Homo sapiens: one gene and its partners. The protein of the gene in region 2 purifies or fractionates together with the protein of the main gene of each other region. This does not show direct contact. Each region holds a gene or a part of one and is shown on either strand. Other genes may lie near its edges.

Region 1 (3,268 bases), on a different chromosome or scaffold from region 2:
TCCTTAAGGGTGTTTTGTTTTGTTTTTTTCTATTCCTTTACTATCATTTTAGTGGGGTTTTGGGAGGGATGAAAAATAAATACATGGGTTCCATATGCCAACTGCAACTGAAATTCTCATTATTTCCTTTCCTGGAGAAAACAGCTACAAGCTTATTTTCGTAACAGATTTAAAGAACTACTTTTGGTACAGTTTCATTTCTGTAAGCCTTTTTTACAGTGGTCTTTAAAATGGAGCAATTCTTGTTTTTTTCAAGTTTTTTTTATGTGAAACTTATTAGAACTTGGCATAATGGTTTTTAAAAATTATTAAGATTTACTTATACAGGCTTATTGAGGAAATATCACTGGCAATTTTAGTCCATTGGATTAGTAGTTTAAGGGCATCAATCTTACAAGAGCATTTTAAACAAAGCATGTTACCTTGCATTTCTTAGGATTGTTGTGAAATAAGGCTTCACAAACATCATATTTGCATTTATGTGTATATAGATGGATGGATGGATAGATATATAAGTAAAACTCTTGGTAATGAATCGATTTTTATTTTTTCTTTGTAAGACTATGCAATTTGAAGATGATGATCATGGCCCACCAGCTCCTCCTAACCCATTTAGTCATCTCACAGAAGGAGAACTTGAAGAGTATAAGAGGACAATCGAACGTAAACAACAAGGCCTAGAAGGTTAGTTAATCTTTACATTCAACCTAGGGTAAGCCACACTGATAACAATAAAGTACCTCACGTTGGATGATAGAAAGCAGTCAGTGTGGCCGGGCACAATGGCTCACACCTGTAATCCCAGCACTTTGGGAGACCAAGGCAGGTGGATTGCTTGAGGTCAGGAGTTTGAGACCAGCCTGGCCAACATGGTGAAACCCCGTCTCTATTAAAAATTAAAAAATTAGCCGGGCATGGTGGTACACGCCTGTAGTCCTAGCTACTCTGGTGGCTGAGGCAGGAGAATCGCTTGAACCTGGGAGGCAGAGGTTGCAGTGAGCTGAGATCGCACCACTGCACTGCAGCCTGGGCGACAGAGAGAGACTCCGTCTCAAAAAAAAAAAAACAGAAAAAGAAAAAAAACAATCTGAATGCTACTATTTTATAGTAAAATCTTCTAGAAAGTGAGATTCCCAGATGAGTAAAGAATTACTAGCCAAAGTAGATGTAGATAAATTAATGGATTTAAACATTTCATAATTATGTGGCTTTTTAACTCTCTTAATTTTAAATAATTACAGATTCATAAGTATGTAGTTTTGATGCTTTGTAAAATCTCTATTTCTGGTTATCTCAAGGTGCCAACATTGTCACTTCAAAATTTAAAACTAACTGCTAAAATTTTGATGTGACTTTCCTTAAGCACACGGACACTCTAGTAGGTTGAGTTTTCTGGCTTTGGAACCCTTAGTAAGTAGATTGTTAGGATTATATTTAAGACTTGTTAATGAAAACATCTTAAACAATTGACTACTAGCTCCCTTTTTCTCTGGAATAAGAGATTCTTCCTAGCAGGAGTTCTCTATCTTGAGTCTTTGGATAAGCTTCAGGCAGTCCATGAGCCACCTGAAAAATACATGCTTTATTGTTTAAGGTACACATTTAGGGAGGGAAGGGTTCAGGGTCAGGAACAAGCCTGTCACCCAAAAAGAGGGTAAGGAGCCTCTGCTTTAGAGCATCCACAACATACAGTTGAAATTTTCATGCAAAGCAAAATAAGCCAATAGTTAATGAATTTTTGTCCATGTTAGATATCATTTAGGAAGAACTAATGACATCTTGATCATCCAAGGAACAGTTTTTTGTGCCTTTGTCACAAAAGGGAGTTGTCCTGATTCATTAATGTAATTATACTAAATTTTCTAAATGGTGTTATTGAATTTGTTTATTCTAACATAAAGTTGGGAGCTTTCTCTGTTTTTCATATTTTGTAAAATATCCCTCTTTAATCTCTTGTTTTTTGAAAGCCTAAAGATGCCAGGTAACAAATGTTGCACTCTAGAACCGTCACCTTTTTTATATAACTTTATAGTAGTTTCTTCCACATTTATTATGACCTTATGAATTAGCTCAGTAACATTGCTCTGACAGGTATCACTAATTAAATATTGTTCAAAAATTCTGTGAAGCATTCTGCCTCATTAATGTAGCATCATTGGTGAGGCTTTATAATTTTTTTCATCTGTCTGCGCAGTATGTTTTGGTTTTCTAATGCTAGCAAGAGCTACATGCAACATATCATTTGCCTGGGCTGCCAGCAGCTGTGCATCTTTTGTAACCTGTACGTAAAATAACCATTAGCAGCCAGAAATGTTAACACATTAACCTCCTCTTAATGTATAATTATGGATATATGGGATAACTGTTAGCATGCTCAGCTCACTGCTGAAGAATTTATCATCTCTTTGTATACAGGCATTTGATGTATGCACTAACCTCCCTAAAATCATATGCTGCTTTGTTTTGTTTTGCATGGCTTTTAACTAAACTCTTATCCAACAGATGCTGAGCAGGAATTACTCTCAGATGACGCTTCATCTGTTTCACAAATTCAGTCTCAAACTCAGTCACCGCAAAATGTCCCTGAAAAATTAGAAGGTACTCAATGTAATTTCCCACATAGCATTCACTGAGTTAGTCTTGAGTCTGTCCCTCTGTGTTTTGTTTTCACGTGAGGAAGTTGAATACCTCATCACAGTAAGTTTTCCATATTTTACTTATATCTCCCAATAATTACATATTTTATATCATTAAAAATGGGGCGCTACTTTTGTTCAGCATTTATATTGATTTACCTTAATCTGAATTTTGGCAACCCGCAGTTCTTAAGAATTTGTGGAATTGGCTGGGCGCGGTGGCTCACACCTGTAATCCCAGCACTTTGGGAGGCTGAGGCAGGTGGATCACGAGGTCAGGAGATCAAGACCATCCTGGCTAACACGGTGAAACCCTGTCTCTACTAAAAATACAAAAAATTAGCTGGGTGTGGTGGCGGGCGCCTGTAGTCCCAGCTACTCGGGAGGCTGAGGCAGGAGAATGGCATGAACACGGGAGGTGGAGCTGGCAGTGAGCCAAGACTGCCACTGCACTCCGGCCTGGGCGACAGAGTGAGACTCCGCCTCAAAAAAAAAAAAAAAAAAAAAAGAATTTGTGGAATTAAACATCTCCCAATCAGCAGCATGAAATCTTTTTCAGTATTGATTGCCAAATGATCCCAAAACTAGAGAAAAATATGTTGTCTTCCTCATTTATACTTAATTGATTTACA
Region 2 (3,727 bases):
AGCACAGTAGCCGTGGCATTGTGGTCCTGGCTGCCGTGGACGATGACAACCACAGGTAGGGACAGAGTCTACAGGAGTCAAAGGAACCCAAGTTGATGGGGCGTGACCACCACGTGCCCTCTGCTTAGGCAACATGCCCAATCTGCTTTATTTTTTTTTATGTATTTTTTTTTTTGATATGGAGTTTCACTCTTGTTGCCCAGGCTGGAGTGCAATGGTGCAATCTCGGCTCACCACAACCTCTGCCTCCCGGGTTCAAGCGATTCTCCTGCCTCAGCTTCCCAAGTAGCTGGGATTACAGGCATGTGTCACCACACCTGGCTAATTTTGTATTTTTAGTAGAGACGGGGTTTCTCCATGTTGGTCAGGTTGATCTCGAACCCCTGACCTCAGGTGATCCACCCTCCTTGGCCTCCCAAAGTGCTGGGATTACAGGCAAGACCCACCACCCATGGCCGCAATCTGCTTTATTTTCTTCGAGACAGGGTCTCGCTCGGTCGCCCAGACTGGAGGGCAGTGGTGCAATCACAGCTCACTGCAGCCTTGACCTCCTGGGCTCAAGTGATCCTCCTGCCTCAGCCTCCAGAATAGCTGGGACTACAGGTGCAGGCCACCATGCCCAACTTTTTTCTTTTTTTTGTAGATACGGGTTCTCACTATGCTGCCCAGGCTAGTCTTGAACTCCTGGACTCAAGCAGTCCTCCCTCTTCTGCCTCCCAAAATGCTGGAATTACAGGTGAGAGCCACCACACCTGGTCCCAACCCACTTTCCTCACCCACAGTTCCAAACACAAGCCCCTCCCAGCAAAATGTAGGCACAAGCAAACAAACAAAAACTACAACCGACTTCTTCTTAGCCCATTGCCTAAATTGTCTGGGTTAGTCCCAGATTATAACCTATCAAACAGGGACCCACAGAGTCAAAGCAGGCTGTCCGATGGCATTGCTGCCAGGAGTCCTGAGGCAGGCCCCTCCACCTCTTGGGTGACCTGGAGCAGTGGGGGCAGGAGGGCTGGGGGTCTCACCTTCACCTGGAACACAAGCTCATTGCTGCCAACACTGAACTGAGACTCAAACAGGACTGTGAACTTCTCCTCTGTCACGGACTCTGCACCCCGCCGGTCAGCACGCTTGATCCTCTTCAGTGACTGCAGGGTGGGAGGTGACAGGGGAACAGGGAGATGGCGGCTGCTTACAAGGACTCAGCTCTGGGCAGACCTGCCCTCCGAGGGTGGGCCCCGTCCTCACCATGTTCCTGAAGTGGGCACTGAGGGTGCCCGTGGCTTGGTGGTACTCCATCACGCAGCAGTTGTTCAGGATCTCACCACTGCACTCGCTGCAAAGGAGAGGGGGGTCCCAGCTCCACATGGGCCCCAGGCCAGGAGCATGGTCCTGTCCACACCTCGGGCTGGGGTCTTCGCTCAGGTCAGCCCTGCCAGCAGCCCCTGCCCCGTATCCCCTAAGAGTGTTTCTTGGCGTCTTTCTGGGTTACTGACTTCTCCATCAACCTGGTGCCCAGCACCCAAGGCAAGGTCTCCAGTGGTGAGGTCTGGATCTATCATTAGAAATTCCTCGATACCAAGATTGATGTGAGGGCTTTGGGGACTTCCAATAGCTTCTAATGCACTTAAGATAAAAATCACAACCACAGTCTCTGAGGATCCCTATGGTCAACACCTACCCACCCCCCTGGCCTCACTGAATTCCTCTCCCCTCACTCAGGACATGCAAGCCCCGTTGGCCCTGGCTGTCTGCTGAACATGCCAGGCTTGGACATTGGCCCTTGCTCTTCCTGTCACCCCAAACACTCTTAGCCTTCTCCTCCTTCAGGTCTCAGCCCAGATAGCTCCCCAGAAAGGCCTTCCTGGACCACTTATCTGGAGAAGCTTACCAAGCTGACCTTTCCTCACCCCCGCCTTAAACACATCTCCAACGCTAGCAGATTGCTCTTTTTTCTTTTTTTTTTTGAGACAGAGCTTTGCTCTTTTTGCCCAGGCTGGAGTGCGATGGTGCAATCTCAGCTCACCACAACCTCCACCTCCCAGGTTCAAGTGATTCCACTGCCTTAGCCTCCCAAGTAGCTGGGACTACAGGCGCACACAACCATACCTGGCTAATTTTTGTATTTTTAGTAGAGATTGGATTTTGCCATGTTACTCAGGCTGGTTTCGAACTCCTGATCTCAAACGATCCTTCCACCTCAGCCTCTCAAAGTGCTGGGATTACAGGCGTGAGCCACTGTGCCCAGCCTAGATTGCTCTGTCTTAACTTCTTTTCCAGTGTCTATCACTGGTTGGCCCTGCCTGATCTTTTAAAGTGTATTATCATCAGTCTCCCCAGCTGCAATGCAAGCTCAAAGGCAGTGAGAAGGTCATTTGTCTTCATCTTCACCCCAGATCACATGGTAGGAAATCAGTAAACTTTTTTTTTTGAAACAGAGTCTTGCTTTTGTTGCCCAGGCTGGAGTGCAATGGCACAGTCTCGGCTCACTGCAACCTCCACCTCCTGGGTTTGAGGAATTCTCCTGCCTCAGCCTCCTGAGTAGCTGGGATTACAGGCTTCCACCACCATGCCCAGCTAATTTTTGTATTTTTAGTAGAGACGGGGTTTCACCATGTTGGCCAGGCTGGTCTCGAACTCCTGACCTCATGATCCGCCCGCTTGGGCCTCCCAAAGTGCTGGAATTACAGGCGTGAGCCACTGTGCCTGGCCTTTTTTTTTTTTTTAAACAGAGTCTTGCTCTGTCATAGGCTGGAGTGCAGTGGCACAATCTTGGCTCACTGCCACGTCCACCTCCGGGTTCAAGTGATTTTCTTGCCTCAGAGTAGTTGGTAGTTAGGACTAGAGGTCCAAGTAGCTGGAGCTACAGGTGTACGTTACCAAGCCTGGCTAATTTTTGTATTTTTAGTAGAGACAGGGTTTCACCATGGTGGCCAGGCTGGTCTCGAACTCCTGGCCTCAAGTGATCTGCCTGCCTCTACCTCCCAAAGTGCTGGGATTACAGGCGTGAGCCACCTCGCCCAGCCTCAGTAAACATTTTTAATTGGATGACAAGGGATGGGGCCATGTCTTCCACATCACTCATTCACTCATTTATTCATCCCCTGCATACGCTGTGGGTGGCCTGCCCTGACACTGGACACTACTTCTCCACTCTCTGCTACACATAATGTCTCTGTACTCTTCCCTCAGGATGTGGCACATGGGCTCTGCCTGAAAGTCCTCCCTCTCTGCTACTTCCCTCCCTATCACTAGCTACCTCCAATTCCACCAGGAGCCTAAGACTGTCATTTCTTTAATCCTGCAAGAAGACCCCCTTTCTCGGTGCCCTACACATCCCCCTGCCACATGGCTACACCATCAGGCATTTCCCAGCATCTGCTGCCTGCTCTGCTGCTCAAGGGGCTGGGCGAGAAGACAGCCCAGTTCTGTTGGGATCACAGTTTTGTCCTCAGTGCGTAGCACAGGTTCTAGAACACAGCTACAACACCATACTTTGTGTGATTTTTTTGGAGACAGGGTCTCACCCTGTTGCCCAGGGTAGAGTGCCATGGCACAATCATACCTCACTGTAGTATCAAATTCCTAGGCTCAAATGATCCTACCACCTCAGCTTCCCGAGTAGCTGGGACTACAAGTGCGTGCACCACCATGCCCAGCTAATTTTAAAACTTTTTGTAGCGATGAGGGTCTCCCTATATTGTCCAACTCAAACTTTTGGGCTCAA
Region 3 (3,500 bases), 7.8 Mb from region 2:
CCCCTCCCGCCCCCACACAGGTATGTCCAGAGCCTCCTGGACATCATGGAGTTCCTGGACAAGGATCCCGAGGACCATCGCACCCTGAGCCAGTGAGTGGGGGCCCTGGGTGGGGCAGGAAGGCAGGTGTTGGCCAGGGGCATCTGGGGTTGCAGCCCCTGGGGCAGAAGTACAGCAGGATGGAAGAAAAGACCCCTGCCTTCAGAAACATCCAGTCTGAGTGGGGAGACAGACTCTGCTTCAGGGAGCCCCAAGTTTGATGGGAGAGACATGGACTCCATTCTCACTGTTCCCTGAGCCCGGTGGGCAAGACCCAGGCCCTGCCATGGGGAGGATGAGAACTCTGGGCTTTCGAGTGGGAAGCCTGCCGGCAGGCAGCTAAAAGATCAGAGTGGGCTTTGGGAGGAGCAGGGAGGGCACTGGGAGTCCATCGGATTGGGAAGGGTAGAGCGGGTGAAGACACCGTGGAGAGGGGAGTCAGAAGCGGAGAAGAGTCTGGGGGTGTCCCATGTGAACATCTGCCCTGCCCCACAGGTTCACTGACGCCCTGGTCACCATCCGGAACCGGCACAACGACGTGGTGCCCACCATGGCACAAGGCGTGCTTGAGTACAAGGACACCTACGGCGATGACCCCGTCTCCAACCAGAACATCCAGTACTTCCTGGACCGCTTCTACCTCAGCCGCATCTCCATCCGCATGCTCATCAACCAGCACAGTGGGTGCCGGCCACAGCGGCGGGGAGCGGGCGGTGGGGGGGGCGGTGCTGGGGCCCAGGGCCGGGCTGCTGAGGGGACCTAGACCACTCTTCAGAACCCCACAAAGGGAGTCTTTGAATAGTTACTCCAGTAACTATGGAGTTAATGGCTCCAACATGGAAAAATAAAATTTTTCTTTCTCATTGATTTTCCATTTCAAAACGTTTTGTTTTCAGTGTTTGCAAAATGTAAAATTATGTCACATCTTTAAAAGAATGTTTAATTTAGTATTTATAAAAACTCTCATTATGTTCAAAAACAATTTGTTGTTTAGAGTTTCTTATTCCAGGAGGATTCACTATGATTTTTGAGAAGTTGTAGCCAGTCATAAATTAAACAAGTTCCTCATGCTCAAATAATTTCCAAAGCAAGGTGGTAAGAGTTCTCTTAGAATGTTATAGTCAAAGAAAAGAATAAATGCAATGTGGAGATGTGATGTGGGGAGAGACCTCTGAAAAGACGTCTGTTTCAGGTTTGCAAAGGTTTAAAAACGGCCTAAGCCAGGGCTGGAGGGGTCAGGGGTCAGGGAAGGGAGGACAGAAGCGGGGGAGTGGGGCAGCTTTAGGACTGGAGCCTACAGAGGCATTGGAGGTGAAAGTAGAAAGAGGAGGAAAGCCCGGGGGAAGAGGGAGCGCTGGGACAGACTGCAGCCCAGCCAACAGCATCCTCCCTTCCTGCCTGCAGCCCTCATCTTTGATGGCAGCACCAACCCAGCCCATCCCAAACACATCGGCAGCATCGACCCCAACTGCAACGTCTCTGAGGTGGTCAAAGGTGAGCCATTCCCACGGTGCCTGGCCCGCAGAGAAGCCCCGGGGACCCCTCCAAGCTTACCTGGCCAGAGGGTGACTCGTTCCTCAGTAAGGGGTGCCATGGATTTAATGCTGGTGGTCCCCAGTATCAATGTCAGGAGGACTGCCTGCTGGGTGGGCCACCCATGCCCTGAATGACCCCATCTTCTCTCAGATGCCTACGACATGGCTAAGCTCCTGTGTGACAAGTATTACATGGCCTCACCTGACCTGGAGATCCAGGAGATCAATGGTGAGTGAGCGGGGCTGTGTATGTGTCTGTCTTGGGGCTGGGGACGTGGCAGGGCAAGGTGAGACGGGGAGTCAGGAGATGGACTGTTTTCTAGACAGGGGAGAAGCAGAGTTATTATATTATTAATTCATTTGATAAATATTTGGGCTGGGCACAGTGGCTCACACCTGTAATCTCAGCACTTTGGGAAGCTAAGGCAGGCCAATCACTTGAGGTCAGGAGTTTGAGACCGGCCTCGGCAACATGGTGAAACCCTGTCTCTACTAAAAATACAAAAATTAGCCGGGCATGATGGCACATGCTTATAATCCCAGCTACTTGGAAGGCTGAGACAGGAGAATCACTTGAACCCGGGAGGCTGAGACTGCCGTGAGCTGAGATGCTACCACTGCACTCCAGCCTGGGTGACAGAGCGAGACTTCATCTCAAACAAATAAGAAATTGAGTGAATGAATGAATGAAAGAGTAAGCAAGACAGAAATGGTCCCCATTCTCGTGGACCTTACATTTTTGGTGCTAGGGAGATTGCGGAATGGAGCCTTCAGCCAATTAACAAGTAAATAAACAAGACCATCTCAGATCATGACAAGTGATGGGAAGGAAATAAAATGGGGTAACTCAACAGGGGTAGGGAGGAGGGGCATGTTAGATGGTGTATCAGCTTGGCTGCTTTCCTAGAACCCCAATACCAGTGGCTTACTTAAGAGGGAGGTTTCCCTCTCGCCAGCCCCTTGCTGGACAGGTCAGGGCTGGCTCCCCACCCCTGATTCAGTTCTAGCCTGGAGGAAGGGAACAAGGGTGTGGAAAGCAGGGCCCAAGAATTGAATGCATCACTTCCATGAGTCACCAGCTACCCCAGCTCAAGGGAGGCTGGGGATTTAGTCTCTCGCTGGGCAGCCATGTACTCAGAACTTTGTGGGAGGGGGTGCCTCCTTTGGGTAAGGTGGTTGAGCAGTGACCTCCTGACGGTTTCCTGACCCTTGGTCTTGACTTGCCCTGTAGCAGCCAACTCCAAACAGCCGATTCACATGGTCTACGTCCCCTCCCACCTCTACCACATGCTCTTTGAGCTCTTCAAGGTGAGGAGGCTGGGAGCCGGTGCTTTGCGGGGAGCGTGAGTAGGGCTGGCTTCTCCCATGCATCTCTTACCTCTGCCCCTCCGCAGAATGCCATGAGGGCGACTGTGGAAAGCCATGAGTCCAGCCTCATTCTCCCACCCATCAAGGTCATGGTGGCCTTGGGTGAGGAAGATCTGTCCATCAAGGTATGTGACCCTTTGACCTTGGGGACCAGGGAGCAGTAGTGGGGGCTTCCCTCCTGCCAGGAGACGGGCTTTCCTTTTCTCCTACATGGTGGGCAGATCCTGGGGGTGGGGAAGACCATGAGAAGGTCAGGGGTATTGGGCGGGGTGGGGAAAATGAGCTGTAAAGAATCCCTGACACATCCCATCTCTCCCAGATGAGTGACCGAGGTGGGGGTGTTCCCTTGAGGAAGATTGAGCGACTCTTCAGCTACATGTACTCCACAGCACCCACCCCCCAGCCTGGCACCGGGGGAACGCCGCTGGTGAGATGGCTTCACCCCAGCCCCTCCCACCTCCTGAGGGAGGCTTCTCTCCTCACTCACTTCCTTATCTCCCTGCTCACTCAGCTTCTGTGTGGCCGTCTGTGACAGTCACCTGTCTTGAATCTGGGCCC

The links.
Region 1: the proteins of STAT5A (region 2) and ADD3 purify together in Homo sapiens (affinity purification with mass spectrometry; one large-scale study listed by BioGRID and IntAct). This does not show direct contact.
Region 3: the proteins of STAT5A (region 2) and PDK2 purify together in Homo sapiens (affinity purification with mass spectrometry; 2 studies listed by BioGRID and IntAct, with this or other methods). This does not show direct contact.

What each region holds. Positions count from the first base shown.
Region 1 is NC_000010.11:110,129,803-110,133,070, forward strand, and holds part of ADD3 (gamma-adducin), read left to right. Parts: intron 1-560; coding exon 561-684; intron 685-2,502; coding exon 2,503-2,598; intron 2,599-3,268. UniProt on the Homo sapiens protein: Membrane-cytoskeleton-associated protein that promotes the assembly of the spectrin-actin network. Plays a role in actin filament capping. Binds to calmodulin.
Region 2 is NC_000017.11:42,301,951-42,305,677, reverse strand, and holds part of STAT5A (signal transducer and activator of transcription 5A), read right to left. Parts: intron 1,337-3,727; coding exon 1,249-1,336; intron 1,149-1,248; coding exon 1,026-1,148; intron 69-1,025; coding exon 1-68. UniProt on the Homo sapiens protein: Carries out a dual function: signal transduction and activation of transcription. Mediates cellular responses to the cytokine KITLG/SCF and other growth factors. Mediates cellular responses to ERBB4.
Region 3 is NC_000017.11:50,105,351-50,108,850, forward strand, and holds part of PDK2 (pyruvate dehydrogenase kinase, isozyme 2 isoform 1 precursor), read left to right. Parts: intron 1-20; coding exon 21-92; intron 93-534; coding exon 535-719; coding exon of another isoform or gene 720-802; exon of another isoform or gene 803-1,021; intron 1,022-1,443; coding exon 1,444-1,533; intron 1,534-1,725; coding exon 1,726-1,803; intron 1,804-2,805; coding exon 2,806-2,882; intron 2,883-2,968; coding exon 2,969-3,067; intron 3,068-3,261; coding exon 3,262-3,369; intron 3,370-3,500. UniProt on the Homo sapiens protein: Kinase that plays a key role in the regulation of glucose and fatty acid metabolism and homeostasis via phosphorylation of the pyruvate dehydrogenase subunits PDHA1 and PDHA2.